Regions from separate parts of the Homo sapiens genome. Here region 2 is linked to region 1. The links come from fine-mapping of genetic effects on gene expression. A gene starts in region 1. The other region holds a variant in brackets. All regions are shown on one strand. Distances are from middle to middle. Region 1 holds the start of MIS12 (MIS12 kinetochore complex component). Region 2 overlaps DHX33 (DEAH-box helicase 33).

Region 1 (14,148 bases):
GATTAAAGGTTTGCGCCACCATGTCTAGCTAATTTTTGTATTTTTTTTTTTTATTAGAGACAGGGTTTCGCTATGTTGGCCAGGCTGGTCTTGAACTCCTGACCTCAAGTGATCCACCTGCCTTGAACTCTCAAAGTGCCAGGATTACAGGCATGAGCTATCTCGCCTGGCCTGGATTCTTACCTCTATTTATCTATATGTCTATCTTTATTCCATTAACACACAGTCCTGATAACTATAGCTTTGCAGTAAATTTTGAAATTGGAAAGTATGAGTTCTCCAACTTTGTTATTCTTTGTCGAAATTGCTTTTGCTAGTCTAGGTGTTTTGAATTTCTATATACATTTCAGGATCAGCTTGCCAATTTCTACAAAGAAGTCAATTAGAATTTTGATAAGGATTGTGTCTTTATTAGCATCATGAAAACAGACTAATACAATGAGTTTTCTACATTTTCTGTTAAATTTCTTCAAAGGATTTTATTTTTGGTGTCTTCAAAATGGAATTGATTTCTCAATTTGATTTCCTGTTTGCTCATTGCTAGTGCATAGAAAAATAATTGAGGCTTGGTACAGTGGCTCGTGCCTGTAATCCCAGCACTTTGGGAGACTGAGGCAGGAGGATCACTTGAGCCTGGGAGTTTGAGACCAGCCTGGGCAACATAGCAAGACCTCATCTCTACTAATAATTTAAAAAATTAGTCGGGCATGGTGGCAAGCTCTTTGTGGTCTCAGCTACTCTGGAGGCTGAAGTGGGAGGATCACTTGAGCCCGGGTGGTTGAGGCTGCAGTGAGCTGAGATCTTGCCACTGAACTCCAGCCAGGGCAACAGGGCGGGACCTTATCTCAAAAAAAGAAAAATAATAGCTTTTCTTACATTGATATTATATTCTGAATCCTTGCTGAAACTCATTTATTTGTTCTAATAATCATAACTATTAGTTCTAATAGTTTAAGATGACAACAGAATGGTCTTCTACAAGATTATATCATCTGCAGATACGATCTGTCTTTCCAATCTGGATTCCTTTTATTTCTCTTTCTTGGGAAACTTTCCTGGGTAAGATCTTCAGCAAATGCTGAATAGGATGCTGAAAGTGGGCCTCCTTTGCTTTCTTTCCTGATATTCAGTATTTCACCATTAAGTGTGATGTTAGCTGTGAGTTTTTCATAGATGTCCTTTATCAGGTTGAGGAAATTCCCTTCTGTTCCTAGTTTGTTGAGTGTTTTTGGCATGGAGGGGTGTTGAATTTTGTCAAATGTTTTTATGTGTCCATTGAGGTGATCATAGGGTTTTTGTTCTTTATTCTATTGAGGTGGTGTATTTCATTAATTCATTTTCAGCAGTTAAACCAACCTTACATTCCTGGGATAAATCCCACTTGGTCATCGTGTATAATCCTTTTTATATACTACTGGATTTGATTTACTTATATTTTGTTGAGTATTTTTTTTTTTTTTTTTGAGACAGGGTCTCACTCCGTCACCCAGGCTGGAGTGCAGTGTTCATAACCATGGCTCACTGCAGCCTCAACTTCCCTGGCTTGAGCTAGCCTCCCACCTCAGCCTCCCAGGTCTCTGGGACTACAGGCATGCACCACCATGCCTGGCTGATTTTTTCTAGTGTTTGTAGAGATGGGGTCTCACTATGTTGCCTAGGCTGGTCTTGAACTCCTGTGCTCAAACAATCCTCCCACATCAAGTCTCCCAAAGTGCTGGGATTACAGGCGTGAGCCACCATGCCTGGCTTTGTTTGTTTGTTTGTTTGTTTGTTTTTACAGAGTCTCAGTCTGTTGTCCAGGTTAGAGTGCGGCAGCAGGACCTCGTCTCATATTGAAACCTCTGCCTCCCGGGTTCAAGTGATTCTCGTGCCTTAGCCTCCTGAGTAGCTGGGATTGCAGGTGCACGCCAGCACACCTGGCTAATTTTTGTTTGTTTTTTGCTTTTTGAGACAGTCTCACTCTTATCACCCACGATGGAGTGGAGTGGTGCAATCTCGGCTCACTGTAACCTCCACCTCCCGGGTTCAAGCAATTCTTGTTCCTCAGCCTCCCAAGTAGCTGGGATTACAGGAGCGTGCCACCACACCTGGTTAATGTTTGTATTTTAGTAGAGATAGGGTTTCATCATGTTGCCCAGGCTAGTCTTGAACCCCTGAGCTCAGGCGACCTGCCTGCCTCAGCCTCCCAAAGTGCTGGCATTACAGGCATGAGCCACTGCACCCAGCTATGTTAAGAATTTTTTTTTTTTTGCATTTACATCCATTATGTAATGGTGAATAGGCATGACAGTAGAGAATAAATAAAACCAGGGAAGGTTTGGTATTACAGAACAATGGGATCTCATATTGGGGTGGGGGGGAAAGTGAGAAATTGGGTGAGATTGATGCTGGATGGGAGATGGGACAATTTTATCCTTTATTCTATAGTGGTTCTATTTATTCTGTTCTATTGATGCATTTTCACACGTTAAAACAACCTTGCATTCCAGGGAAGCAGAGAATGGGTAAACAACTGTATATAATTCTGATTTAGTCATAAATTTCTGAAGGGAGAATTTACTTTTTAGAGGATGATAGGGTCAACTATATTATTTCTGCAGAGACACCACCATAACAAACAGCAACAGTAATGTCCAGCAATTATTAAGCATGTACTCAACACAAAATGGACCCGAGTTCAAACACTGGATTTCACCCTTCTATCCAGGTCATGACCATACTTAACTGTATTAAGATGAACCATATTACTGCATATAATAATGTCAAGGCCTCAGCAGTAGTTTCCTTAATAGATAGCTTATATCCTCATGAACATCTCAATATTCTGATTTCACTAACATGCCTACTAATAGGTATATTGTTTCCTGTGACTGCTGTAACAAACTGATGACTTAAAACATATTCTCTCACAGTTCTGGAAGCCAGAAATGCAATCCACCTGTTGGCTCTAAGGCAGAATCTCTTCTTTGCCTCTTCCAGCTTGTGGGGGCTGCATTACTCCAAACTTTTTTTTTTTTTTTTTTTTTCTGAGATGGAGTCTTGCTCTGTCACCGGGCTGGAGTGCAGTAGCACGATCTCTGCTCACTGCAACCTCCGCCTCCCGGGTTCAAGCGATTCTCCTGCCTCAGCCTCCCGAGTAGCTAGGATTACAGGCATGTGCCACCACACCTGGCTAATTTTTTATATTTTTAGTAGAGACAGGTTTTCACCATGCTGGCTAGGCTGGTCTTGAACACCTGACCTCAAGTGATCTGCCCACCTAGGCCTCCCAAAGTGCTGGGATTACAGGTGTGAGCCACCATGCCCGGCCCCAACCTGCTTTTAGGTCCTAATACCTCCTCCTTTTCTGTCTGAAATCTCCCTCTGCCTTTCTAAGGAGACTTTTCACTGGATTTAGGGTCCATCCAAATAATGCAGGATGATCTCCTTATCTCCATATCCTTAATTATACCTGTAAAGACCCCTTTGCTGAATAAGGCAACATTCACAGGTTCCAGGAATTAGGACATGGACCTATCTTCGGAGGGATCACTGTTCGACCCACTACAGCAGATTCTGAATAAGCTATAAATGTGAAAAAGATAGTGTTTTCAATTGAGTAAAAAGTCATACTGGAAAGAAATATACCATGGCATTATAGACAGCAGAAAATAAAAAACCAAACCCTTTAAAACACATATATTTAATGTACAGAATTGGAAAAAGGACTTCTTGATAATAAACATATTTCATGTAAACACAAGCTTTCAATATCTATGAATATTTCATTGCAAATACACCCTAAGTTACTTCTTCTCTACATAAAGGAGAAACTCCAAGTTCTGCTCTTTAGGAAGACATGGAGGGCAAGCAATACCTTAGGAACAACCATTGCTATTTCTCCCCTTTCCTTGGGTGACCTAACATTTTACAGGGACTAACGACATAAAGAAATATTAGATTCCATTGAGTTTAAACACAAATTTCCCACTGAGGGCATTAAATATTTGATGCTTATGAGTGTGAATAAATAAATATTAGGTATAAGGCAGATTCCAAAACCAACTGAAGTATGAAAACAAATTGGCATAGATACCTAACAGTCAGTAAAATTAAATTTCACTACTGAGTATATGCTACATGCTTCCTTTTCTACTCCAGTGGGTTCTGCTTTTTTTGTCTAAGGTCTTCTGCTGGACTCTAAGACAGTCAATTGCTTAACATCACCAGGTTTTTTGTCAGGGGATTTATTTTGGAAATAAACCAACTTCTTTTTTATTAAAGATCAAGGTTGTCTTTTTTGCTACATGCTTCTTTCCACTACATATTGACTCCCTCATGAAAGAAAATTCACAGGACGAGAGCAAGTACTCTATGTTGGCTGTTCCGCAGTGTAATGACTGGTTAATAAAAGAGCCACTCAGCCTGGACAATATAGTGAGGCCTCGTTTCTGCAAAAAAATTAGCCAAGCATGGTGACACGCACCTGTGGTCCTAGCTACTTGGGAGGCTGAGGCAGGAGGATCACTTGAGCCCAGGACACAGAGGTTGCAGTGAGCCAAGATTGTGCCACTGAAATCTACTCTAACCTGGGTGACAGAAAGGGACCTTGTCTCAAAAACAATAATAATAATATTAAAGGAGCCACCCGTTTAATCCTTTTCTTGTCTGGTCTCATCCAAAGAGTAAGCCAAAATAATCAAGGTCACAAAGGACTTATGACCAAGGTGTAACTCTGCAAATATCTTTAACTGGTCATGGCTTCTTTGTTGGATCCCTTCCCACTTATTAGAAGACTCAGATGCTTCAGCCTAGTTCAAAGTAGTACACTTCATACCTCAGCAAAGTGGACCAAAAAAGAGGAAAACACAGAATACAAGAAAGAGTTGACAAAGCAAATCTAATAAAAAGTATGGTTGGTTTGAACAGTCACTGGTATGATTTGAACAGTCCTTATGGTTTGAACAGTCCTTATGATTCTACTTTTTGACAGGCTCCTCCTTTTGACTACTGAGCAATTAAGATATTTTCAGTCGTTTCGATTCCTTTTCCACATTGTCTCTAATGTTCTGTAGTTTTCTGGAGTTCTGAACCAGGGATACTAAACTCTCCCTAAAATCACTAGTCCCATGATCTCTGCCAACATTATGAAGCTCATCAAAGAAAGTCAACGTCTGTTTGAGTTTGGCCTGAACAATTTTTTGCTCTTCTAATTCTGCAAGAAGGGCCTGCTTAGTACATAATTCAGTCTTGTACTTCTCCTGTAACTGTTCAATTTCTTTCTGGAGATGCTGAAAATCTTCCTCACTATAAGGTGTCTCCTTACATTTATCTTCAGGAAGCAAGATGTTTGAGGGAATACGTAAAATCAGCTGCAAAAACAGTTGCTCCATTTTGCTAAAAAGGTTATCAAAATGTCCTTTCATGAAGCAAAGAAACTTCTCTGTGCATTTGCGAATCTGCACTGGGCTAATGTCACAGTCTGGGATGCCATCCAGCTTCTTCAGAATAACCTGTTCAACGGCCTGCATCACTTCAAATAGGTAGTCTTGAAATGCAATGTAGATCCGAAGCATGCACGTTTGTGGCGTGAAGCCAAAGAACTGGGCCTCGTAGGTCATTGGATCCACAGACATCTTGGCTTATTTTGCTATGTTGTTTTCAGTCGTGAAAAACCTGCAAATGTAAAAAGGAAATAATTCATTTGGAAAAAAAAAATCTTCTGCAGGAAGTAACCAATCACATTACAGATAGCAAACAAAGAAGCAAATCAATAAAAAATAAGGAGTTTGTGTTCCTTTATACCTGATGCCACTCCCACAACAGGATATAAACTCTTTGCCTCTCTGAGGCTCCTTCCATCAGCCTATACCCTCCCTTTTCCCCTCCTCGTTGTTCACTTCCCTTACCTGTGACTTTGGCACAGATCAGTCTTCTGAATTATCATCCTAGACAACTTTGAAGTCTAGACAGATGACTTAACCAATGCCCTAGAGACTCAGTTTCTTGAGCTTCAATGACCTATAGCTCCACCTTTTAGCCACCTGGCTCTTGATATTTGTAACTACTCTTCCAAACTGCTTCTACTTTTTGACTACTGCCTCCTACACAATTCTTCCAATTCTTACCCATATACTCATATTATACCCTAATCTTCAAGATTTACAGCCCCTCCACCCTCTCTTTCTGTTCTCAGCCTCTGCCACTTCTCTTCTTTCCTTATTCATTTTAGGCCTCATGATCTATCATTTTGATCACTCCGTTGCCAATGTCCTCAATTTGCTTGTCCTCCAGCCAAGCCATCTGAAAAAAACCCAATTAGAAGATGAGTAAGTCCCTTGTCAGCTTTATAACCCTGACATGTTTTTTCAAGGGTCTGCGAGTAATTCCTCTCAAATATAAACATCTAGGAAAATAAAACCCCTATCTCCTTGTCATTGTGGGAATTCAACCTAGGCATCTTTTTCTGAGATGAAATGATATTGCTTGTCATAGAAATAAGAGAAATTTTATTATTCCTTCAGATAAAGGCAATTAGCTAAAACAAACTGCTACTTCAATTATCAGGTGAATTTAGGACGCACTTTATGAAATAATTTGCAATAAGCAGTACAGTCAAATCTTATGGGAAGATAAGATGCAGCCAATCTTAAGAATTTATGTTTGTAGGCTGAGCACGATAGCTCATGCCTGTAATCTCAGCACTTTAGGAGGCCGGATGGACGAATCACCTGAGGTCAGGAGTTCGAGACCAGCCTGGCCAACATGGCGAAACCCTATCTCTCCTAGAAATACAAAAATTACCCAGGCGTGATGGTGGATACTTGCAATCCCAGCTACTCGGGAGGCTGAGGCAGGAGAATCACTGGAACCCGAGAGGCGAAGGTTGCGGTGAGCCGAGATTGTGCCACTGCACCCCAGCCTGGGCAACAGAGCGAGACTCTGTCTCAAAAAATAAAATAAAATAAAAATTTACGTTTGTAATGGTTAAATATGGAGTGGTTATAACTGTTTGGCTGTATATGTAAGGTAGGATTTCTTTCTGTTTTTCTTTTTTTCTTTTGAGACATGTTGTCGCTCTGTCGCCCAGGCTGGAATGCAGTGGCACGATCACAGATCACTGCAGCCTCAACCTCCCGCGCCCAAGCAATCCTCCCACCTCAGTCTCCCAAGTAGCCGGGACAACAGGTGCAGGCCACCATGCCTGGCTAATTTTCTTGTTGTTGTTGTTGTTTGAGACAAAGTGTCACTCTTTCGCCCAGGCTGGAGTACAGTGGTATGATCTCGGCTCGCTACAACCTCTGCCTCCTAAGTTCAAGTGATCCTCTTAGCTCAGCCTCCCAAGTAGCTGGGATTACAGGTGGGCGCCATCTCAAACAACAACAAAAAAATACACTTCCTTGATTAACTCCTTTCTTCGAATTCCCATTAGGACCTCTCTTCGGGCACTGACTGATGAACTTCTACCGCCTCATCTTCTCTGCTAGACTTAGAGTTCCTGAGAGCAGAATAAATGCGGCTTGATCAGTATTTGCCGATTCAACGCAGAGGTGCCCAGGTCATCTCGGCGAGTTGAGCTGTCTAAGACCCCGCGATCGCGCAGGACAGGACCCAGAAGCCAGAGCGCAGGAACTGCTTCCGGCCGGCTCCCGGCTTCCGTCGGGCCCCGCGCCCGCGCTGCATGCTGGGATCTTCAGGTCGGAGGCCGGGGTGAGGCCGACCCACAGGCCGCCTTGCTCCCTCGCGAAGACGCTTATGCCAGTCTCGCCCGTCCCCGCTCCTCCTCAGAGAAAATGCTGCCCCGCAGCACTTACCGGAGCGACCATGAGGGTGACGATTTGAAGCACACACAGGCTTCCCGCCACCTCCTTTAAACCGCCGCTGGCTTGCCAGGGACAGACGGCGCGGTTGGCTCCCCAAAATTCCGACTGATACGCGCCTCGGCGAGCGAAAGCAAACGCGGGATACTCTCGCGTTCCTGATTGGCTGGTTGTGGACACCTCAATTATGACAGAAAGGGGCCGGGCGGGAAAGTTAGCTGTGGCCGGCGGGGATTGGCAGAAGGAACCTGTACTTACTCGTTTTTCCCGGACGTTGGCTGGTGGAGAAGAGAGGGTGGGGAGATGGGGCGCTGGGGGGGGGCGGTGGCGACGCAACTCGTGATTGGCGGATGTGCGTTCCTTAGGTCTCTACGGATTGCGGTTGCTTGGCGTTGATTGGGCAGTCGCGGGAAAACTAAAGTGGGCGGGGGGCCTTTGGGCCCGCCCCGCCGCCGGGGCCTGCTGGCGGAAGGGGAAATGGGGTGGGTGGGGGGTGGGGCAGGCGACGGTGGGGAAGATGGCGTACCAGAGCTTGCGGCTGGAGTACCTGCAGATCCCACCGGTCAGCCGCGCCTACACCACTGCCTGCGTCCTCACCACCGCCGCCGTGGTGAGCAGCTGCAGTGCCACCTTCTCATTATCTGGGCTGGATATGACTGGGTCTTCAGGAAACTGGGGTTTGGGCCTCGGGGAGGCCCAGAGGGGCTGGTCCCGGGGATGGGTGGAGGCGTACAGGGATTACTCTGGGGTTCGAGTTGGCGCCAAGAATGCTTATCCAGTGACGCGAGAAGGGAGTGCTGCTTCATGGGGGGTCAGGTCAGTTTCTAAGAGATGAGCGCCGGACCTATAGCGGGTTAGGGTTGCGGGAGCCTCCCACCCAAGAAATGTGTCCGAGAGCTCTGCCAATGGCCAGGTGGTACCATGGTGACTAGTGAGAGGAAGGTCCGTTTAGTGAAGAAACAGGAATGGGGAAAGCAAGCTGGAAACTGTCGAGAGGGGAATGGCTTATAATAAAAAGGGTCTCTGGATCTAAATAAGGGGCTAGCTGGAGGTACCCAGCCCTAACGGTGGCAGGGTCTCCAGTCTCCGTTATTTCAAGTGAGTTTTGTTGTTTCATACAGCTGTTTCAGGTGGTGCCCATGTGGTGGGTAGATTCATAGCAGCTGTTTTTATTTGTCCTGTGTCTAAAATATCACCACCTGTCTGCCTCATTTCTTCATGTCAGCCTCAACTATTGCAACATAAAACAGACTTTTTTGTGTTAGGTATTGAGGATACAAAGAATTCTACCAATCCTAGAGAATTCTTTACCAACCTCTTCCTCTGGCCTAAGAAGAAAGGCTTAAAGGAAATCACGTCTAAGTGACCGAGAGTTGGAAATTGCTAGACCTACTAATTCTTTGTTGTAAATGATGAAATTTTGTTTCTTGATTTGCTTTAAGAAGCTCTTTTTCTATTTCAGCAGTTGGAATTGATCACACCTTTTCAGTTGTACTTCAATCCTGAATTAATCTTTAAACACTTTCAAGTAAGTGGTTCATCACAATAGTGATTAATGCTTCAGTTTCTTCTTTTTCTTACTGTTTAGTAGCAAATCCTGTTATACACTATCCTAAAAAAGAACCCAGTGGGGACCTTTGATTATAAGTTGCCTTGTCAGGATATAAAGCAGTGATTCTGCAGCCTGGTTGGACTTGAGAATCCCTTAGGGAACTTTGAAGAGATTCTCAAGCTCCTCAACAAGTACCAAATCAGAATTTGCAAGGGTAGGAATTAAAATCTGTGTTTTATTTTTAAAGTTCCCTGCATCGTTTTGATGTGTCCAGTTCCTGTATTTGGAAATCACTGGTTTAGACTTAACGTTGTCCTATGAGAGGAGGCTGACTAGCTAGCTGCTTAGGGGTTGTCTCACAGGGATGGCCTTATTTTGTCCATTCAGCACCTAGGCACACCCACCACCTTGGTGTTATCACCATGGTCCAGAAACTCAATTCTGTTAGTGCTTTTAAATTGTGATCTGTCTTCCAGGGATCAGATCATACTAACCAAATTCCAAACATCTAAAGCTATATGGTGGTTTATTAGATTACAATGGGAGATGGTCCTTTCCAGTGATTAAAATGCCAAAAGAGGCTGGGCACAGTGGCTCACGCCTGTAATCCCAGCACTTTGGGAGGCTGAGGCAGGCAGATCACCTGAGGTCAGGAGTTCAAGACCAGCCTGGCCAACATGGTAAAGCCCTGTCTCTTACTAAAAATACAAAAATTAGCCAGGCGTGATGGCACATGCCTGTAATCCTAGCTACTGGCGAGGCTGAGGCAGGAGAATCACTTGAACCCGGGAGGCGGAGGTTGCAGTGAGCCGAGATTGTGCCATTGCACTCCAGCCTGGGAGACAAGAGCGAAACCCTGTCTCAAAATAAAATGCTAAAAGAGAGATGGATTTTTCTGTTCCAGGATGATCTTACCATAGTTGGAGTAGGGGAGAGACCCAAAAGCCAATAACTGTGCCTCTACACATGCTGTTCTGTCTGTCTCAAATGTGTTTCATTCACTTTATATCCATTGAACTCTAGCTTGCCTTTCAAAACGCAGCTTTTGTGTAACCTTTATGTACTCATCCTCCTTTGTTTTAGAACATCTCTCACTTTTACTTTGCAGTTATGCGTATGCTTGTCTCCTCACTAGGATGAGGACTCTAAAATCTGGATAATTAATATGTAGAACTGAATTGTTTCAACTTTAATAGTTAACAATTCTCAAGAATTTAGTGGTCTGTAAAGCAGTCCTGTCATCTCTTGTCACTGTGTTCGCACAATACTCACATGGCGCTGTAGTTCCATCCAAGTAAGTCTTGCTTCCTACTTGGCTTTACTCTGCCTGGGGTTAAACTCTTGATGACACTGTGCATTTGGAGTTAGGAGTTCTAGATTTGCCATCAGAGTTTCCATCTACTCCTGCGGGTCCTTGGTCAGGACATTTAAAAGTTCAACTTTTAGCTGAATAACTAGTATTCAGCTAGTCAGTCAACTTTTAGTCTCCTATCTGTGAATTGGGGGTAGCTTGCTTGTCTGTGGATCACAAGAGATAGTAGACATTTTAAAACGTTAAGCACTCTACAATTGAGAGTGGTTACTGTGGGTGTGGAGATGTTGGGTAGGGAAGGGTCTATCAGGGTTTCCAACAAGAAAATAAGTGTTTGGCAGGGTGCAGTGGCTCACGCCTGTAATCCCAGCACTTTGGGAGGCTGAGGTGGATGATCCCCTGAGGCCAGGAGTTTGAGTCAGCCTGGACAACATAGTGAGAACCTATCTCTTTTTTTTTTTTTTTAAGTTTTAGTTTAAAAAAAAAGAATTTTCCTTTCTTTTAGATGTTTCTGACTGCCTAATGTAAACATTTCTCAGCAATTTATATTAGACCCTGAAGTTTTTCTCTGATATGTCAGTTCTATTTATTATATGATGATACTACATATGAAAGCACTGTTTTCTGTTCTGCCGATTAACCTAGTCTTTCCAGCAAACTTTCTCCATACGACGATCACAATTTAAAATTTTCTTTCCTATTATTATAAATGTCACAGTCCCAATGATGTCTTTCAGACTTTGAACTAAAAGCAGCAAAAAAAATCTAACATCAGATTATATGCCCCCGTTTTTGTTTCAGAACAGAGTATCACTCTGTCCAAGGCTTCTCAACCACCGCAGTCATAGGATGTTTCTTTTGTATTAATATGGAACTGTTTCCTGGTAATTTATTTTACTTAATACATCTTTCTCTTGATTTTTTTTTAACAGATATGGAGATTAATCACCAACTTCTTATTTTTTGGGCCAGTTGGATTCAATTTTTTATTTAACATGATTTTTCTGTATCCTTTATTAAATGGGGTCAGCATCAAAACTTTTTCTTAGGAAGTAAAAAATTAAGTTGAAACTTTTCATCCTGTTACTTGTTTTTGGTACCATCTTAGCTATGATTTCTGGGTCAGTGGTACATAAAGTAGTTGCTTAGGTAGTAATGTTTTGAAAATGTCTGTAGGTCACTTTGTTCAAATGGGAGGTTTTAACCATAAAAAGATAGCACTTCTGCTCTTTTGTTACTTACAAATCTGATCAAGGGAGGGGAGAATTGATTTAACTGAGGCATACCTCCACAGTAACCAACAGGTTCGAAGCCGTAAAACAACCTGAATGCAATGGTAATTCAGCAGAATTTGGGCATAAGTTTTGGAATGGGTTCATGAGGAGTGGGAACCTGAGATCTCCTTGGGTCCTGGTTGCTGGAACTACTGGCTGAAAGACAGTGGTTGTGTCTGCTGGGCTTGTCAAGTTCCGGTTTGTTGAAAGGAAAACCCCAGCTCTGATCCAATGGTAATTGGGGCCACAGAGCAGGGCATTCCTCTTCCACCCCTGCCCTCTGTATTAAGAGGGAGTTACAGTTCAACTCATCTGCAGCTGCATTCCTTCCTGAGGATGGCAGGAATCCATTTTATATCCTATGTAGGATATCATTCTGATAAGTTTCCATTAAAGTTTTTTCTCATCGTAATTCATCTTTATTGACTGAGGTGCTCAACCTGCCAGGCTGGAAAAGTAGTTGAGCACACAAGGCTTCTTGCTGCGGATTTCTTCCAAGTTAGGATGTGGGAAAGCAAAGATGGTGCATATTAAGGTGTGGCTGAGCACAGGAAAGACAATACAAATTTTTAAAGGTTTAATAGGGGACTGGAGGGCCGGGTGTGGTGGCTCACACCTGTAATCCCAGCACTTGGGGAGGCCAAGGCAGTGGATCACGAGGTCAGGAGTTTGAGACCAGCCTGGCCAACATGGTGAAACCTGCTCTCTACTAAAAATACAAAAAATAGCCTGGCATGGTGGCACACAACTGTAATCCCAGCTACTCAGGAGAATGAGGCAGGAGAATCGCTTGAATCTGAGAGGCGGAGCTTGCAGTGAGCCGATATGGCACCATTGCACTCCATCCTAGGTGACAGAGCGAGACTCTGTCTCAAAAGAAAAAAAAAAAAGAATAGGGGACTGAAAGCATGTCTGTGTGTCATCTGGATTAGTTCCCAGCCAGGGACAGTTTGTAAAAAATGATGCTGGTCTTGACCTTTTCTCAAATGCTTGGTAAAAAAGTAATCACATTACCACTCAAACATTCTTATACAAATGAAGACTTGACTAATTACAAATAATATGGAATCCAAGTGTACTTACAAGATAACATTAAATTTTTACTTTGTTCATATTCGTGTGCTTAATATTTTCTTAACTTGGAACTTAAGATATCGTTACTGTCGAATGCTAGAAGAAGGCTCTTTCCGAGGTCGGACAGCAGACTTTGTATTTATGTTCCTTTTTGGTGGATTCTTAATGACCGTATCCTTCAACAAACAACACGGGAAAATGTTGAAGAACACCCTGGCTCTTCCTAAAGCTTGTCATCTGTCTCCCACAGTTCTCTAGATCTTAGCTTCAGGGCACTATCATTTATTTTACAGCACATTTTCTGTGACAAGTTTCCAAACCTAGCAGTCGGACAGGATGAGCAAGTCAAAGGAACTTTTAACCCAGGTGGGTTACTGTTAAGCAACTCAGTTATATCATTACTGCTTGGCGTACTTCACTTTTAAACTAAGTTGGTAAGACATTTACTTGGTGGCTACCAAAACCAATAAATTATTTTTTCAGAAAAAGAATTTTCATCTATACAATAGACTTAGATATGGTACGGTCTGACAAGATGGTTTTGTTCCAGCTAGCTTTATTCATCTCTGTAAAGGTGCTAATCGTGAGCAAGCTTTAATATAATTATTGACTGAAGAATTAACACATTTTCCAAAGAGGCAAGAACTTCACGAAAGCAGAGTATTTGTTTGAAGTAGCTGTAAATCTCGATAATTTAGCCTAAGCAGATTTTTGCCTGATTGCTCTGGGTAATTATTTTCTGGGTGTTTCTCCTTCTATTCTAAAGATGTAACAACTTGACTTTTCCAATTCAAACTTCTGTTAGAACACAATCTTTAGTTCTCCTGCTCAGTCTTTCCTATTAAACTTTTAATGTTGATATTTTCCTTAATGCCATCTGCTAGCTTTTTGGTCTGTTTGTGAGCTTAGTTTTCTTGGGCCAGGCCTTTACAATAATGCTCGTCTATGTGTGGAGCCGAAGGAACCCCTATGTCCGCATGAACTTCTTCGGCCTTCTCAACTTCCAGGCCCCCTTTCTGCCCTGGGTGCTCATGGGATTTTCCTTGTTGTTGGGGAACTCAATCATTGTGGACCTTTTGGGTAAGGCTCTTCTCACTATTTTTTAAATTATTTTACCTGTAAAAGTATTTTGTTACT
Region 2 (15,857 bases), 27 kb after region 1:
TGCTGCTAGTCAAAGGAATAGAGAGTGAGCAGATGCAGCAGTCAAGTCCGGTTATACTGGACTTGGATGTGATGCCCACTGGATTTGGATGTGAGCTATTTGTAAGAGTTAAAGAAAAAGGAAAGAAACACGAAACGCGGCTGGCAGTTAAAGACAGCTTTTCTTTAGTTAAAACCTGAGAGGCGCTCCTGGCCGATTTCGGTCAGGAGCCCTTTCTCTTACAGACTAAGAGTATATATTGGTGTTAGGGTGAGGGGGCTTATCACAAGCTTGGAATGTTTATATGTGTGGAGAAGTTTTTGGCAGGGTTGGACTCTTTGGGAGCAGGGGATGTTATCTTGGGGCAGACATTTTTCCGGCCCGAGGGGGTTTATCTCCCGGCTGGCATATTCCCGGCTGGCATATTCCCGGCCAGAGTGGGGTTATCCCTTAACATGTCTCTGGTCGGGGAGGAGTTTGGAATGTTTCTGGCTGGAGATGTTATTTGTGGTTTATGGTCGTGCTGACCTTAGCCATTAGGCTGATACCTTTTGGATTTAGGCGGTTTTTTATTAAGGTGAACTTTTGAATGAGGGGCTTGTCCAAGATGGTGATGTTCCTGCTTTGTCAATCCAGACCCTATAGTTATAAAAAGGAGGAGGGACGGCATGTTCTTTCTGGCTACTTCCTGCAACGAGGGGATGGAGAGTTTCCTGGTCTCGGGTTGACTAGGAGCAATGCCGTCTGTAGATGTTTTTGGGTAGTTGTTTGTGAAATTGCCATGATCCTGTCAGTTAAAAATCTTTGAAAAAGATTAATTAGGCAGGGTAAGAACATTAGTTCCAGGCATATTATTAGGAGAGGGCCCAGGAATGGGATGACCCATGCTATGATTTTGTTTTCAAACCAAGAGTCCATTTGGTGGTTTTGGTACTCCCTTAGCTTTTTAGCCTTTTCTTTACGTTTTTTAGCAGCGCTTTTTACTAGGCCCGATTGGTTGATATAGAAAGAGGCGTGAGCCACCGCACCTGGCCCCCTCAAAACAATTATTTAACCTTTTAACGTAGGTAAAAATGTGCATTCTTATCCCTCCTGATAATCTTTTTACCGAAAGTGTACTTTACTTTCCTTACACACCTTGCACATAAAGTGTCTCTTCAATAGTTTTAAATACATGTTACACTGTTAACTTTTAGCAACCTTTACCTTTGTTGAAAACCTTGGTAAGTTCGGGATTTTAATTATGTGCTAGGTGTACAGCCTAGGACTTAGACAGAAGTGCAGTTAAGGTCTGGCTTATTTCAGCATTTAGCTCCATGTGTCCTAGGTTTTACCTAGCTGCAAAGCAGGCAAGTTCTACAGCTAAGAGTTATGGTGACATTTTATAAAGCATTCAGGAGGCCTAATCACTTTTAAATTGTAAAACATTTCTTGCATACATTTCCTCTCATAAAATTTTTCATGACTTTCACAGACTATCTCTGACACTATTGATCGTGGATCCATCCCATCGAGAGCTATTTCAACAAAGCTGTGTGGGTAACAGCTGATTTGTCATTGAGCTGAGGGCTGAAAGCAGGGGGAAGAGGCTTCTGTTTTGAGGAAAAAGGAGGGAAGCTGAGAGAAACTTTATGGATGCTGCTCGATTTAGGATGGGGTTATGTGTGGATGAATCCACCCATCCTCATAAGTTGAAAATATCCTAAGTTGGAAATGCATTTAATATGCCCAGCCTACTTTCAGTGTGCTCGGAACATGTACATTAGCCTATGGTTGGGTGATATTATCTAACATGAAACCTATTTTATAATAAAGTCTTGAATATTTCATGCAATTTATTGAATACCATACTGAAAGTGACAGTTGTGTGGGTACTCAAAAGTACAGTTTCTACTGTACGATTTTGACTTTTGCTCCATCCTGAAGTCAAACAGTTCTAAGACAGGGACCATCTGTATTCAGAGGTTGAGGGGAAGAACTCAGTAGGGAGGGAGGCAGAAGATAGAATCGAGCTAACAGAGCAAAGATCAGGAGGCATGGGGGACGGGGGAACTTGGCCACAAGGGCTAGATGCAGGGCTGGTCTGGAAGAGGAGGAAGGCTAAGAGGCTGCAGGGCTAGAGAACGGATGTAAGGATGGTGCACTGCAGAAGGGCTTCTAGGGGCAGTTAGGGAGAGACCACATTTTAGAACCCCACTTCTGTGAGACAGGTTCAGGAGCCCTGCTCAGAATGGGAGTCACTGGGCTTCAAGTGGGCCCTTGGGGAGGATGGAGACGAGACAGGCTGCAAAAACAAGAAAAAAGATCGATGGCAGTAGTGGTGCCTAGGTGCATTTCGGCTACACTATAAACTCAGGTTTGCTTCTGCACAGCCAGATTATAGGTGGAACATCCCAAATTTGAAAATCCGAAGTCAAGAATGGGCTCCAAGGAGCATTTCCTTTGAGTGTCATATCAGATGCTCAAAAAGTTTTGGATTTGGGAGCATTTAGGACTTCAGATTTTCACATTTAAAATGCTCAGCCAGTAAGTATAATGCAAATATTACAAAACTTGAAAGAATCCAAAGTTCAAAACACTTCTGGTTCCAAGCATTTTGTATTTTACTTTAGCAACGCTCTGTTGCCCTGGTATAGGAGCATGAAAGATAGAGACATGGATCAAAGTTTGGGGTTTTGCCTAGTGGATTCAGCAGGAAGATTGCAGAATAATCAAATCCTTTGTCTGATTCTTATCTGGGTCAGGAAGGATGAGCAGTCAGAGGGGGCTGACAGACTGACAGGGAAAAAAACCCACAAATCATGGGACTGGAGGACTTTTTGAAGTCAGAGAGGCCTGGTGGTAGCTAGAGGGAGGGGAAGGAAGCGCAGGTTTACTGAGTTCTTTGCTCTAATCAGGCACTGTTAAAGGAATTCACACAGGGTAGGAAGTAACATTTACTGCGTGCTTATTGTATGCAAAATACTCAAGTACACGAGAGGGACATTCAGAGCACTGCCCTCTGGGAGCTTCCCTTCTGGTGTTGGAGGAGGACGGACACATTTAAACGCTTCTGTACAACACAGGATGGTCAGTGCTGGAAGAGAGATGAACAAGGCACTACGGAGCCCAGAGGAGGGCCACTGTGCAGCCAGGGGAGCGTGTTTGAGGCCTAACTCATCTTAGAGTTTGCGAGGCAGGCAGTGTGAGGGCAGGTGTTCTGCCCATAGTGTGGGCAGAGGCAGAGGGTTTGAAGGGAGGCAGCAGGCTGGGGAGTGGCCAGGAGTTGAAGGCAGCAGTGCATGAATGGATGTCTCTTCATGTCAGTCAGTATGCAGAAATCTATGTAACGGTTGTATTTTATTTTATATTTTAACTATGTAAATTACCTTTTGAACATTTATATTGTTTCCAATTTTTTTCTGTCAGGAGCAAAATTGAATAAAATCTCTTTGAAGCTGTATCTTTATACACATGTTTACTTATTTTGTTAGAATCAATTTCTGCAAGTAGAATTGTGGGTCAAGGGATATAAACATTTTAAAGATTTAAAAAACATAATTTGACCACCTGAGAAACAATACCAATTAACCAGCTAATTTCACCAGCAGTATACATACCTGAATGCCCATTCTCCTGAGGCTTTACCAACACAGGGTATTTTATCTTTTACTTCTGACTTTGAGCTGTTTGTTTGGTGAAATTTATGTCAATTTGCTTTTTGTTGTTGTTGTTTTTCTAAGACAGGGTGTCATTCCGTTGCCCATGCTGGAGTGTAGTGGTGTGATCATGGCTCACTGCAGCCTCAACCTCTCAGGCTCAAGCAATATGCCCACCTCAGCCTTCAGAGTAGCTGGGACCACAGGCGTGCACCACCACGTCCAACTAATGTTTGTATTTTTTGTAGAGACGGCATCTCCCTATGTTGCCCAGGAGCAACTCCTGGGCTCAAGTGATCCTCCTCCCTTGGCCTCCCCACGTGCTAGGATTACAGGCATGAGCCACTGTGCCCAGCCGATTTGCATTTCTTTTTTTATTTTTATTATTTTTTTTGAGACAGTGTCTCACACTATCTCCCAGGCTGGCATGCAGTGGCACAATCATGGCTTACTGTAACCTTGAACTCCTGGGCCTCATGATCCTTCTGTCTCAGCCTCCCTAGTAGCTGGGACTACAGGCACATGCAACCACACCAGGCTAATTGTTGTTGTTGTTGAGACGGGGTCTTGCTATGTTGCCCAGGCTGATTTTGAACTCCTGGGCTCAAGAGAGCCTCCTACCTCGGCCTCCCAAAGTGCTGAGATTATAGGTGCCAGCCCTGGTGCCGAGCCCCAGTTTGCATTTCAGTGAGCCTTTTTTTTTTTTCCCCCTCTCTCCTAGGGGAAACTGGCTCTGGGAAGACAACTCAGATCCCTCAGTACCTGTATGAAGGAGGGATCAGCCGCCAGGGCATCATTGCTGTGACCCAGCCTCGTCGAGTAGCTGCCATCTCTCTTGCTACTAGAGTCTCAGATGAGAAGAGAACTGAACTTGGGAAGCTGGTACCTGGTTCCTTCTTGACTATTAGTACTTCTTGACTCAACAGCTCTCTCCCCATGCCCACTGCCTTTTATTTTTCTAAACAAGACTCCTTTTACATAGTGAGCTGCTTTCTTGCCTATTCTTCCGAGAGTTCTTTACCAGCTCCTGAGAGATCAGGGGCTCTATTGGTCCCATGTGCTTTGCTTTCAAAATCTGTCGTCAGGTTGGATAAATTAGTTGCTTTCCTTGAACATCTTAAGCCTTCAGTAACCTCTCTTAACTCTCTTATCTATATATCATTCTAGAAAAATTGTAAGCATTATGCCAGTGTATATGTGAGTATTGAGAATGAGTCTCAGAACTGTATATAAGACAGATTTATTTGTGTGTGTGTGTACTCATTTCACTTAAAAATACCTTAGACGTCTTTTCATATCTGTACATAGCTTCACATGAAACTTTTTTTTTTTTGGAGATAGTCTCGCTCGGTCGCCCAGGCTGAGGTGCAGTGGCGCAATCTTGGCTCACTGCAACTTCCGCCTCCAACCAAGCAATTCTCCTGCCTCAGCCTCCCGAGTAGCTGGGATTACAGACACGTGCCACCACACCCAGTGGCTAATTTTTGTATTTTTTAGTAGAGACGGGATTTCAGCATGTTGGTCAGGCTGGTCTCAAACTCCTGACCTCGTGATCTGCCTGCCCCAACCTCCCAAAGTGCTGGGATTACAGGTGTGAGCCACCACACCCGGCCCACATGAAACTATTAAATAGCTTGAGGTAGAAGGTTAATTTTAAATATTCCTTGTAATAGTTACATTAATTGCGGTTAAAGTAAACTTGACCATTGTCTCTCTCAGCAGCTAGACTGCATGCTTCCCAAGGGAGTGGGAAGCGTTGGTGTTGGTCTTGTTCACTGTGGTAGTGCAAGTGCCCAACTTAGTGCCGGACACAGTGGGCGCTCAAGAAATGTTTGGTGACTGAATAAATTGTTTCCCTGCACAGGTTGGCTATACAGTGCGCTTTGATGATGTCACCTCAGAAGACACCAGGATCAAGTTTCTGACAGATGGCATGCTTCTGCGTGAAGCAATTTCAGACTCTTTGCTTCGGAAATACAGCTGTGTCATTTTGGATGAAGCTCACGAACGGACTATCCACACAGATGTGCTCTTTGGAGTGGTGAAAGCTGCACAGAAGAGGAGAAAGGAACTCGGGAAACTTCCTCTGAAAGTATGAGGGAAACTTCCCCTGAAAGTATGAGGGAAACTTCCCCTGAAAGTATGCGTAACACACAGAAGGAAACAGGCCTGGCTGGGCGCGGTGGCTCACGCCTGTAATCCCAGCACTTTGGGAGGCCAAGGCCGGTGGATCACCTGAGGTCAGGAGTTCGAGACCAGCCTGGCCAACGTGGTGAAACCCCGTCTCTACTAAAAATATAAAAATTAGCTGGGTGTGGTGGCACACATCTGTAATCCCAGCTACTTGGGTGGCTGAGGCATGAGAATCGCCTGAACCCAGGAGGCGGAGGTTGCGGTGAGCTGAGATCACACCACTGCACTCCAGCCTGGGTGACAGAGCGAGACTCTGTCTCAAAAAAAAAAAAAAAAAAAAAGTGAAAGTTCATTAAATAGCATAACTTTATAGACAACTTGTATTTCAGGGAGTTGGCAGAAATATGATCTGAAAGTATCCAGATAATTGGCCCGGCACGGTGGCTCACGCCTGTAATCCCAGCACTTTGGGAGGCCGAGGCCGGTGGATCACCTGAGGTCAGGAGATCGAGACCAGCCTGGCCAACGTGGTGAAACCCCGTCTCTACTAAAAATACAAAAAATGATCCAGGCATGGTGGCACATGCCTGTCGTTCCAGCTACTAGGGAGGCTGAGGCAGGAGAGTCACTTGAACAAGACTGAAATTCCGTCTTGATTTTTTTTTTTTTTTGCACTCTGTTACCCAGGCTGCAGCGTGGTGACGCGATCTCAGCTCACTGCAAGCTCCGCCTCCCAGGTTCACGCCATTGCTTACCTCAGCCTCCCAAGTAGCTGGGACTACAGGCGCCCACCACCGCACCTGGCTAATTTTTTGTATTTTTAGTAGAGACGGGGTTTCACCGTGTTAGCCAGGATGGCCTCGATCTCCTGACCTCGTGATCCGCCTGCCTCGGCCTCCCAAAGTGCTGGGGCTGGGATTACAGACGTGAGCCACCGTGCCCGGTGAAACTCCATCTCAAAAAAAAAAAAAGAAGGAAAGGAAAGGAAACAGACCTGTGTGCTCTAGCAGGGTGTTTTCCTCTGCCTGTTCTGCTCAGAGCCTTGGAAGAAAGTAAACTGTGATGGGGGTGGCACAGGCCTCAATCATCTGCTTTTGGGGCTCGAGAGGGACACGGAAAGGCCTTCCCACTATTTGTTTCTGGTCCTCCTCTTCGTTCTCTTATGCAGGTGATTGTGATGTCAGCTACGATGGATGTGGACCTGTTCTCTCAGTATTTCAATGGCGCCCCCGTCCTCTACCTAGAGGGTCGGCAGCATCCGATCCAGGTGTTTTACACCAAACAGCCTCAGAATGATTACCTGCACGCCGCGCTTGTCTCCGTCTTCCAGATCCACCAGGTATGGTGCTGGGGGCAAATTCCTGAAAAGTTCTCTTTTATCTTGCAGTTGGTAGTGAGAACATTGAGCCTTGAAAAGAAAAGCTACTGAATAAAACAACTTTGTGAGTTGTGTCATCAAGATGAATAAGGAGGCCAGGTGCGGTGGCTCACGCCTGTAATCCCTGCACTTTGGGAGGCCGAGGCAGGTGGATCACCTGAGGTCAGGAGTTCAAGACCAGCCTGGCCAACATGGTGAAACCCCATCTCTACTAAAAATACAAAAATTAGCCAGGCATGATGGCGGGTGCCTGTAATCCCAGCTACTCGGGATGCTGAGGTGGGAGAATCGCCTGAATCCGGGAGGTGGAAGTTGCAATGAGGCGAGATTGCACCACTGCACTCCAGCCTAGGTGACAGAGGGAGACTCCGTCTGAAAAAAAAAACAAAAAAAAAACAATGAATAAGGAGTTCATTTGCTGTGTCTGGATTTTTATCCTTTATTTATGATATCTCTAATTTTCATTGAAAAGAAAAATAATTCAGTTCTGACCAGCAGCTTTCTTACACTGAGCCAGAAAATTTTCATGTTAAAGCAGTAGCTTACCAACTTTCCTTGATTATAACCGCCATTAAGAAGTACTTTTGGCTGGGCACAGTGGCTCACGCCTGTAATCCCAGCACTTTGGGAGGCCGAGGCGGGTGGATCATGAAGTCAGGAGATCGAGACCCTCCTGACTAACATGGTGAAACCTCGTCTGTACTAAAAATACAAAAAATTAGCCGGGTGTGGTAGCGGGCGCCTGTAGTCCCAGCTACTCGGGAGACTGAGGCAAGAGAATGGCGCGAACCCAGGTGGCAGAGCTTGCAGTGAGCCGAGATCGCGCCACTGCACTCCAGCCTGGGTGACAGGGCGAGGGTCTGTCTCAAAAAAAAAAAAAAAAAGGTACTTTTTCTTTTGCAACCCCGTACGCTATACATATAACTGAAATAGGTCTATGAAACACTGCTTCTGGCCAGGCAT[G/C]GTGGCTCACACCTGTAATCCCAACGCTTTGGGAGGCTAAGGCAGGAGGATCACTTGAGTCCAGGAGTTCAAGACCAGTCTGACAACATAGCAAAACCCTGTCTCTATAAAAAAAATTATAAAAATTATTTTTTAAAGAAGAAGTACTGTGTCTTTTACTACATGTAGGGTACTCTGATATTTTGTGCCTCATTTAAAGAAAATGTTGGCTGGGCACAGTAGCTCACACCTGTAATCCTAGCACTTTGGGAAGCAGAGGTGGGTAGGATTGCTTGAGCTCAGGAGTTTGAGACCAGCCCGGGCAACATAGCAAGACTTGTCTCTACTAAAAATCAAACAATCAGCCAGGTGTGGTGGTGCATGCCTATAGTCCCAGCTACTTGGGATGCTGAGGTAGGAGGATCACTTAAGCCTGGAAGATTAAGGCTGCAGTGAACTATGATCACCGCACTCCAGCCCGGGAAACAGAGCAAGATCCTATCTCAAAAAAAGAAAAAGTTGACATTAGCCCAATAATGGGTTGCAACTTAGAGTTTCTTTTTTTTTTAAACTATATTAGGAGAATATTTAAAAATATTTTCTCATTTTATTAAACATTTACTTCAAAAATTTGAATCATTAAGTCACTTTTGTTTAATTTGTATAAAATTTAATGTTTTTACCTTCCTATTAGCTTTCTGAGAAAATCCAGAGGCAAACTTTTAAAATAACTTTTTATTTAATTAATTTACTTATTTAGAGACGGGGTCTCATTCTGTCACCCAGGCTGGAGTGCAGTGGCATAATCACAGCTACTACAGCCTCGATCTCCTGGGCTCAAGCCGTCCTCCTACCTTTGCCTCCTGAGTAGCTGGAACTACAGGCACACACCAGTACACCTGGCTAATTTTTTTTTATGTTTTGTAGAGACAGGGTCTTGCTACGTTGCCCGGACTGGTCTCAAACTCCTGACCTCAAGTGATTTTCCCGACTCAGCCTCCCAAAGCACTGGGATTGCAGATGTGAGAAACCGTGCCCAGTCAATTTTTATTTTAAAATAAGTGATGCATATGGGATTTAAAGTTTTAAAAAGTCAAGTAGTTTATAGTAAAAGGTTTATAATAAAAGAATAGCAGTTGTTTTTACTTCAACATCCCAGATTTCTGCTGTTTAGGGCACCTACTTTCAATCTCTACATATTGCTTTCATGTTTCTAAACTACCTTGCTTTGACCACTATTTTTTGAGTTATGGGTATCAGGCATCATATGCTAATTTCTTACCATGGTGACAAAAGTTTAGAATGCCCCTCCCCAACCCCCTTTATCTCCAACCTCTTGACAGTTCTATCATGTTTTTGTTTAGGTTTTTGTTTTTGAGGCAGGATCTTGCTGTGTTGCCCAGGCTGGTCGTGAACTCCCGGGCTCAATCAGTCCTCCCACCTCAGCATTGGGAGTAGCTAGGACTACATGCTTGCACACCTGTGTCTGGCCTATTATGATGTTTTCTGAGTCCAGTATCAATACTAAGAATATTATGACCACACATTGCTAGTAGCACACCATCATCCCTGTACCTTGTTTCTTGAACAACACAGTTGTGCAAGCTTTCTGGGTAGCTCTGGCTCATTTTCTCCCAAATATTCCAACATCTCATATGCCAGTCGTGTATAGTTCTGTGTTCAAGCACAGTCTGTCTTTTCAGAGTCCTTTATGCTGCTGTTCCAGTTGGGGCAGGTGGCTCTCCTGGGCCTTTGTGCAGCTGTCATCTTGACTCTTCACTTTGTCACCATTTTCCCGTGGTGAGACCCATGGCTTCCCAGTCTCCTGGCCGTCCTGGGTAGGAGAGGGAACTGAAGGCTTTAACTACTCTATACTCAGACTTTGAACCAATCCCTGAGTTTTCACTCTCCCACAACATAATTTGTAGTTTCCTCCCTCTAGCCAAGTCATCCAGCCCCTTTCCCCTCTCTTCCAAAATGAGTTGAGACTCCTCATCTCTCATTGCCTTTTCTTTCTAAGACAGTGGCCTTTACTGTCGTTTTCATAGTGTTTGGGGAAGAAGTCTGCCTTGTTCAGCTGCAGAAAGCAAACGAGAATTTTTCATGAATGATGGCTGCTGGTGCATTAGGTTACCACTGGCTTTGATGAATTCTCCCACTCATGAGGTTTTGACTGTTTTAGATTTTATCCTGTCTGTGTATCCCTCTGCACATTTGTTCTGTTAATACTGGGCTGAAAAAAAATACATATTAAAAAATACGTATTTTTACATATATACATAAATATACATATAATTATTAAAATTTTTTTCTATTTATTTTGCCATTAGGCACTTTTTTTTTTTTTTTTTGAGATGGAGTCTCACTGTGTCGCCCAGGCTGGAGTGCAGTGACACGAGCTCGGCTCACTGCAACCTCTACCTCCCAGGTCCAAGTGATTCTTGTGCCTCAGCCTCCTGAGTATCTGGGATCACACCTAGCTAACTTTTGTATTTTTAATAGAGATGGGATTTCACTGTGTTGGACAGGCTGGTCTCAAACTGCTGACCTCAACCCATTTGCCTGCCTCAGCCTCCCAAAGTGCTGGGGTTACAGGCATGAGCCACTGCGCCCAGTCCATCAAGCACTTCATTTTATTTATTTATTTTTTGAGATGGAGTCTTGCTCTGTCGCCCAGGTTGGAGTGCAGTGATGCAATCTCGGCTCACTGCAACCTCCGCCTCCCATGTTCAAGTGATTCTCCTGCCTCAGCCTCCTGAGTAGCTGGGATTACAGGCGTGCGCCACCACGCCTGGCTAATTTTTTGTATTTTTAGTAGAGACAGGGTTTCACCATGTTGGTCAAGCTGGTCTCGAACTCCTGACCTCAGGTGATCTGGCCGCCTCGGCCTCCCAAAGTGTTAAGCACTTTACATCAAACAAATTAATGTATCTGATCAGAAATCAAAGAAAAATCAGGGCATTAGGTATGTCATTCACACTTGGGTGTTGTTCCATTTGAAAGTGAGGAACCCCATTAACCTCAGTATCTCAAGCAGTTGTCCGAGTATAGTGTGTGTTTTGGGGCGTGTGAAAGCGCTTTCGACGGCGTCATTCATTAAAGGCTCCTTCTCCAGCATGGCTGCGCCTGTTCATTTCCATAGATTAGGATTTCCCCAAGTTTCCTTCTGTTTTGTCAACTTCATTTTTCAAGATGCTTATAAAAGAAAGGAAGCTTCATGCAGATTTTATTTGCTTGCCTGATTATGCTTTTCATGGTATTGTTCTTGTTAGAAAAATCAATCTGATGATTTCCCTTCAAAATTTCATCACTTGGCCTATAAACATAGCTGGCTAACTCCTATATATTACAGTTTTGTTTTTTGTGTTTTTGAGTCAGGTTCTCGTTCTGTCGCCCAGGCTGGAGTGGAGTGGCAAGCAGCTGGAACTATAGGCATGTGTCACCACCCCTGACCAATTTAAAAAAAAGTGTTTTGTAGAGATGGGATCTTGCTGCGTTGCCCAGGCTGGTCACAAACTCCTGGCTGCAAACGATCCTCCCGCCTCAGCCTCCCAAAGTGCTGGGTTTACAGGCGTGAGCCATCACACCCAGCCTGTTACCATTTACACACTGCTGGTAAGGGTTCTCTCCAAGCTAGACATCAACTTTTAGGCTCATTTACATTTCTATAGTTAAGAGAAATAACTCTGGGAAACATCATCAATCACCATTGTCTTTTTCTGTGCAAGCTGCAATTCTATCAATGCCTAGTAAACCCACTCTACTTTTTTTACAGGAAGCCCCTTCTTCACAGGACATCCTGGTGTTCCTCACTGGGCAGGAGGAGATCGAAGCCATGAGCAAGACGTGCCGAGACATTGCAAAGCACCTCCCAGACGGCTGCCCTGCGATGCTGGTCCTTCCTCTGTACGCCTCCCTGCCCTATGCACAGCAGCTCCGAGTCTTCCAAGGGGCCCCAAAGGTGAGTGCACCACCTCTTCTGTCCAGCCCTATTCTGGGCACCCAGACGGATCCACCAGCGAGGTCTGTACCTGTTACCAGGCTCCAGATAAGGTGTATGGGATGGGATACCCAGGTGCCAGATCAGCGCACTGAGGAGGTGCAGGAATAAAATGCGCGGTGACACACGCAGCGCTCCTGTGACAGGAGCAGGGAGACAGTTGTTGGGATGAGGGAGAGTATAAACCAAAGCTGCAAGGTAAACGAGTGACTTCTAAGGACCAGCATAAATTGCATTTGTCCATAGTGCCATTTCTTGTGTGCCTTTGCCGTGCCAGGCACTGTGCTAGCATTTATATCCACTGTCTGTCATCCTCGTGGGAACCGGCAAGGCAGGTTATGATCCCATGGGGATCCTGAGGCCCCAAGAAGGGAAGTAACAATTGCTCAAGGGGGCGCATAGTAAGTCACTGGCAGGGCCACGATTCCAACCCACATCTACTTGCTTCTGATTCCTGTGCTTGTTCCACTGCATCTCATTGCCTCAAATTGACCTTTAAGACTGCAGCGTCCCCTTCCCCTGCCCGGTTTAATGACCAACCATTAATATTAATGACTGCCATTAATAATGGAGTCATCTTCTGTTGGTCAAGAGTGAATTGTGGAAGTTAATGGTGAGAATATGTTTGAAGACTTCTGAATCATCCGTGTGTCAATGCGGCTTTTTGGTTTTCTTCCTCCTTTTAGGGCTATCGCAAAGTGATCATTTCAACCAACATCGCTGAAACCTCCATAACCATTACAGGAATAAAATATGTAGTTGACACGGGCATGGTTAAAGCAAAGAAGTATAACCCTGGTGAGAATTTGTAGTTCATGAATGTCTCTCCTGTGTCTAGTGAGCAGCCACTGAAACTGTAGTCCCACAGTTTTCCCCTGAGTGTTTCATGTTTGTAACTAACAAATTCAGGTGGCAGGCGCCATGAGTGAGATCACCTACACTCCAGGTCCGCGAAGGAGTCCTGAGGCGGGTATGTGAGACAGGAAGTAGAGGCAGGAAAGAAGAGCCCAGGTTGAGCAAACTTGGGCACACAGGGTCAGGGACCTGGGCAGAGGGTCTGGTACCCCATCAGAAGTCGGCTCTAAGGCCAGGGACAGCTGGGTGTCAATCAAAGGGTGTCATCAGAAACTATATATATATGGCTGGTTTGAGCTCCCAGGTTTCTCAGGAAGGAACCAGATCTCCTGGCTGAGGTGAGGCATGGAAGGAGCACTGGCTTCTCCTAAGAAGGTGCAGTGAGAAGCTAACTTAAGGTCATCTTGACTCATGTCTGTTTTATACTTTGCTTTATTCCACAGAGGATTTGAGACCACTGAAATTATTGCTCCCAATTATTGAACTGAAATGCTCTAGTAAACATTTGAGGGTCCTGGCTTCCACAGGTGTATCTTTTTGTGATGACGTAGGTGAAAGAGCTTGGGTCTCCAGTGCCAGGCTAATGATACACCTTTATCAAGAAAATGAACCTCATTTACTGCTAGAAAACAGACATCACATTATTTCTGTCTTACAGCAGAACTGGGAGGGAGGATAAAGCACACAAGTGATTTGAGGCATTTAATTTCGTAGTCATTGATTGATAGTATGACCCCCATCCTAGTTTGCTGAAACTCCCAGTTTTAGCACCCAAAATCCGACATCCCAGGAAACCCTCTGTCCCAAGCAAACTGGAGGGGTTGGCCATCCTACCATCTAAGGCAAGACCTCGGAAACTACTCTTCTCGCCCCTTGCTGCATGCGTGAGGTTTTTCTGATGTTTTTGTAACAGATTTCACAGTGGGCTTATGGCAAAGCCTTGTTTCACTAGGGCCAAACCGCTGCGGAGCAGTCTGGTTTTGTGCTGTCCATTGTGCTAGCCTTGAGGCTTTCTGGACCCCCGTGTTGCTGAAAGAACCACTGGTGTGCTTCTTTTTATCGACACTGTAGAAAGAGTTTGTTCATGTGATGAAGCACTAATGGGGCTCACTCTCCATCCAGACAGTGGTCTTGAGGTGTTAGCAGTGCAGCGGGTATCGAAGACGCAGGCTTGGCAGCGCACAGGGAGGGCTGGCAGAGAGGACAGTGGCATCTGCTACCGGCTCTACACGGAGGACGAGTTTGAGAAGTTTGATAAGATGACCGTGCCAGAGATCCAGAGGTAGGCACCAGTTGCTCCTGCACTGCTGCTGTTTGTCACCATGTCTCTCCTGCTTGCCCAGAGCTGCAGTTTTTACTCACACTCCACCATGAGGGGTTCTGACTCAATGGCAGAGGGATCAGGTCATGACCCTGGTCTCATGCTCTTCACAGGTGTAACCTGGCCAGTGTGATGCTTCAGCTTCTAGCAATGAAAGTCCCAAATGTGCTCACCTTTGACTTCATGTCGAAGCCATCTCCAGGTAAGTGAAATCCACAGTTTTGCAGAAGGTGGGTGAGGAGACAAACAACAACAAATGGACACTTCCAAAAAAATAAAGTATATTGGTCATCTCCTTTTGTTTATTTAATTTTGTGGATGACAACATTAGTTATTAGAGAAGCATCTGAAAATCATGAAATGATAGATAGATACATTGATTGACTTTTAAAGAGACAGGGTCTCACTGTGTGGCCCAGGTGGAGGTGCAGTGACTATTCACAGGCTCCATCACAGCCTCCAACTCCTGGGCTCCAGCGATCCCCCCGCCTCAGCCTCCCAAGTAGCTGGGACCACAGGCATGCGCCAGTGTTCCTAGCTATGAAACGATAGATTCTGTACTATCAGCACCATCAATAAAGTTCCTTGACCTCTGGAACCAGTGAAGGTCATCATGCGAGTCCTTGGGATACTACAGAAATGTAATGAAATTGTACTTTTATCAGCACAGGGACTGCAAAGATCACATTTCTTTGCCTTTAACTGGAATTTGATCCATCTCTCCTGTTCATTAGTAATTTCTCTACAGAAGAAGAAAATAATTGGAAATATTTATGATATTGGCTTTGGCACCTGGCCTCTCATCAACGCACCATTTTCCTTTTCTTTTTATTGCCCCCCCTTTTCTTAAGAAATGCAATTGGTTTAAAAAAGAAGGAAAGAAAACACAAAGTCACCAGTTGATGGGTATACAAGGGTCCTGCCCTGATCCTCAGGTTCACAGTTTCCTTCCCCTAGAACAACCACTGGAACCATTTTCTAGTAGACTTCTAGAGCAAATGTATGCATATATGAGTATATGTAGTGTGTTTGATTTTATTTATGTATTTATTTATTTATTTTTGAGACAGGGTCTCACTCTGGTTGTCCAGGCTGGAGTGCAGTGGCACATTCTCAGCACACTGCAGCCTCAACCTCCCGGGCTCAGGTGATTCTCCCACATCAGCTTCCCAAGTAGCTGGGACTACAGGTGTGAGCCACCAAGCCCCTGCTGTAGTATGTTTTTGTTTTTGTTTTTGTTTTGAGACAGGGTCTCACTCTGTTGCCCAGGCTGGAGTGCAGTGGTGCGATCCCAGCTCACTGCAACCTCCACCTGCCGGGTTCAGGTGATTCTCCTGCCTCAGCCTCCCGAGTAGCTAGGACTACAGGTGTGCACCACCATGCCCGGCTAATTTTTGTATTTTTTAGTATAGATGGAGTTTCACTATGTTGACCAGGCTGGTCTTGAACTCCTGACCTAGGTGGTCCGCCCACCTCGGTCTCCCAAAGTGCTGGGATTACAGGCGTGAGCCACCACGCCCAGCCTGTAGTATGTTTTAAAACACAAATAGCAACACACATTGAGTATTGTTCTGTGCTTGATTTTTTTTCTTTCATTGCTAAATTCTTACA

Evidence for each region.
Region 2: its variant is fine-mapped to the expression of MIS12 in sigmoid colon (GTEx, PIP above 0.99).

Annotation. Positions count from the first base shown.
Region 1 is chr17:5,480,330-5,494,477 of GRCh38, reverse strand. MIS12 (MIS12 kinetochore complex component) reads right to left here and starts at 7,912. Exons shown (of 3, transcript NM_001258217.2): 1 at 7,794-7,912; 2 at 5,889-6,282; 3 at 3,667-5,655. The coding sequence starts at 5,615. The coding sequence ends at 4,998. It overlaps DERL2 (derlin 2), which reads left to right and starts at 8,300. Exons shown (of 7, transcript NM_016041.5): 1 at 8,300-8,409; 2 at 9,262-9,327; 3 at 11,596-11,669; 4 at 13,089-13,182; 5 at 13,896-14,091. The coding sequence starts at 8,317. RefSeq lists enhancers at 7,293-7,402, 7,643-7,742, 8,363-8,422, 8,463-8,642 and silencers at 7,916-8,083, 8,033-8,192.
Region 2 is chr17:5,452,171-5,468,027 of GRCh38, reverse strand. It overlaps DHX33 (DEAH-box helicase 33), which reads left to right. Exons shown (of 12, transcript NM_020162.4): 2 at 4,339-4,499; 3 at 5,482-5,709; 4 at 6,919-7,089; 5 at 11,846-12,031; 6 at 12,757-12,868; 7 at 14,048-14,207; 8 at 14,360-14,448. Among named protein-coding and RNA genes, the nearest start is that of DHX33, 8.9 kb to the left of the region's middle. The variant G/C (reference allele first, on the strand shown) is at 8,092.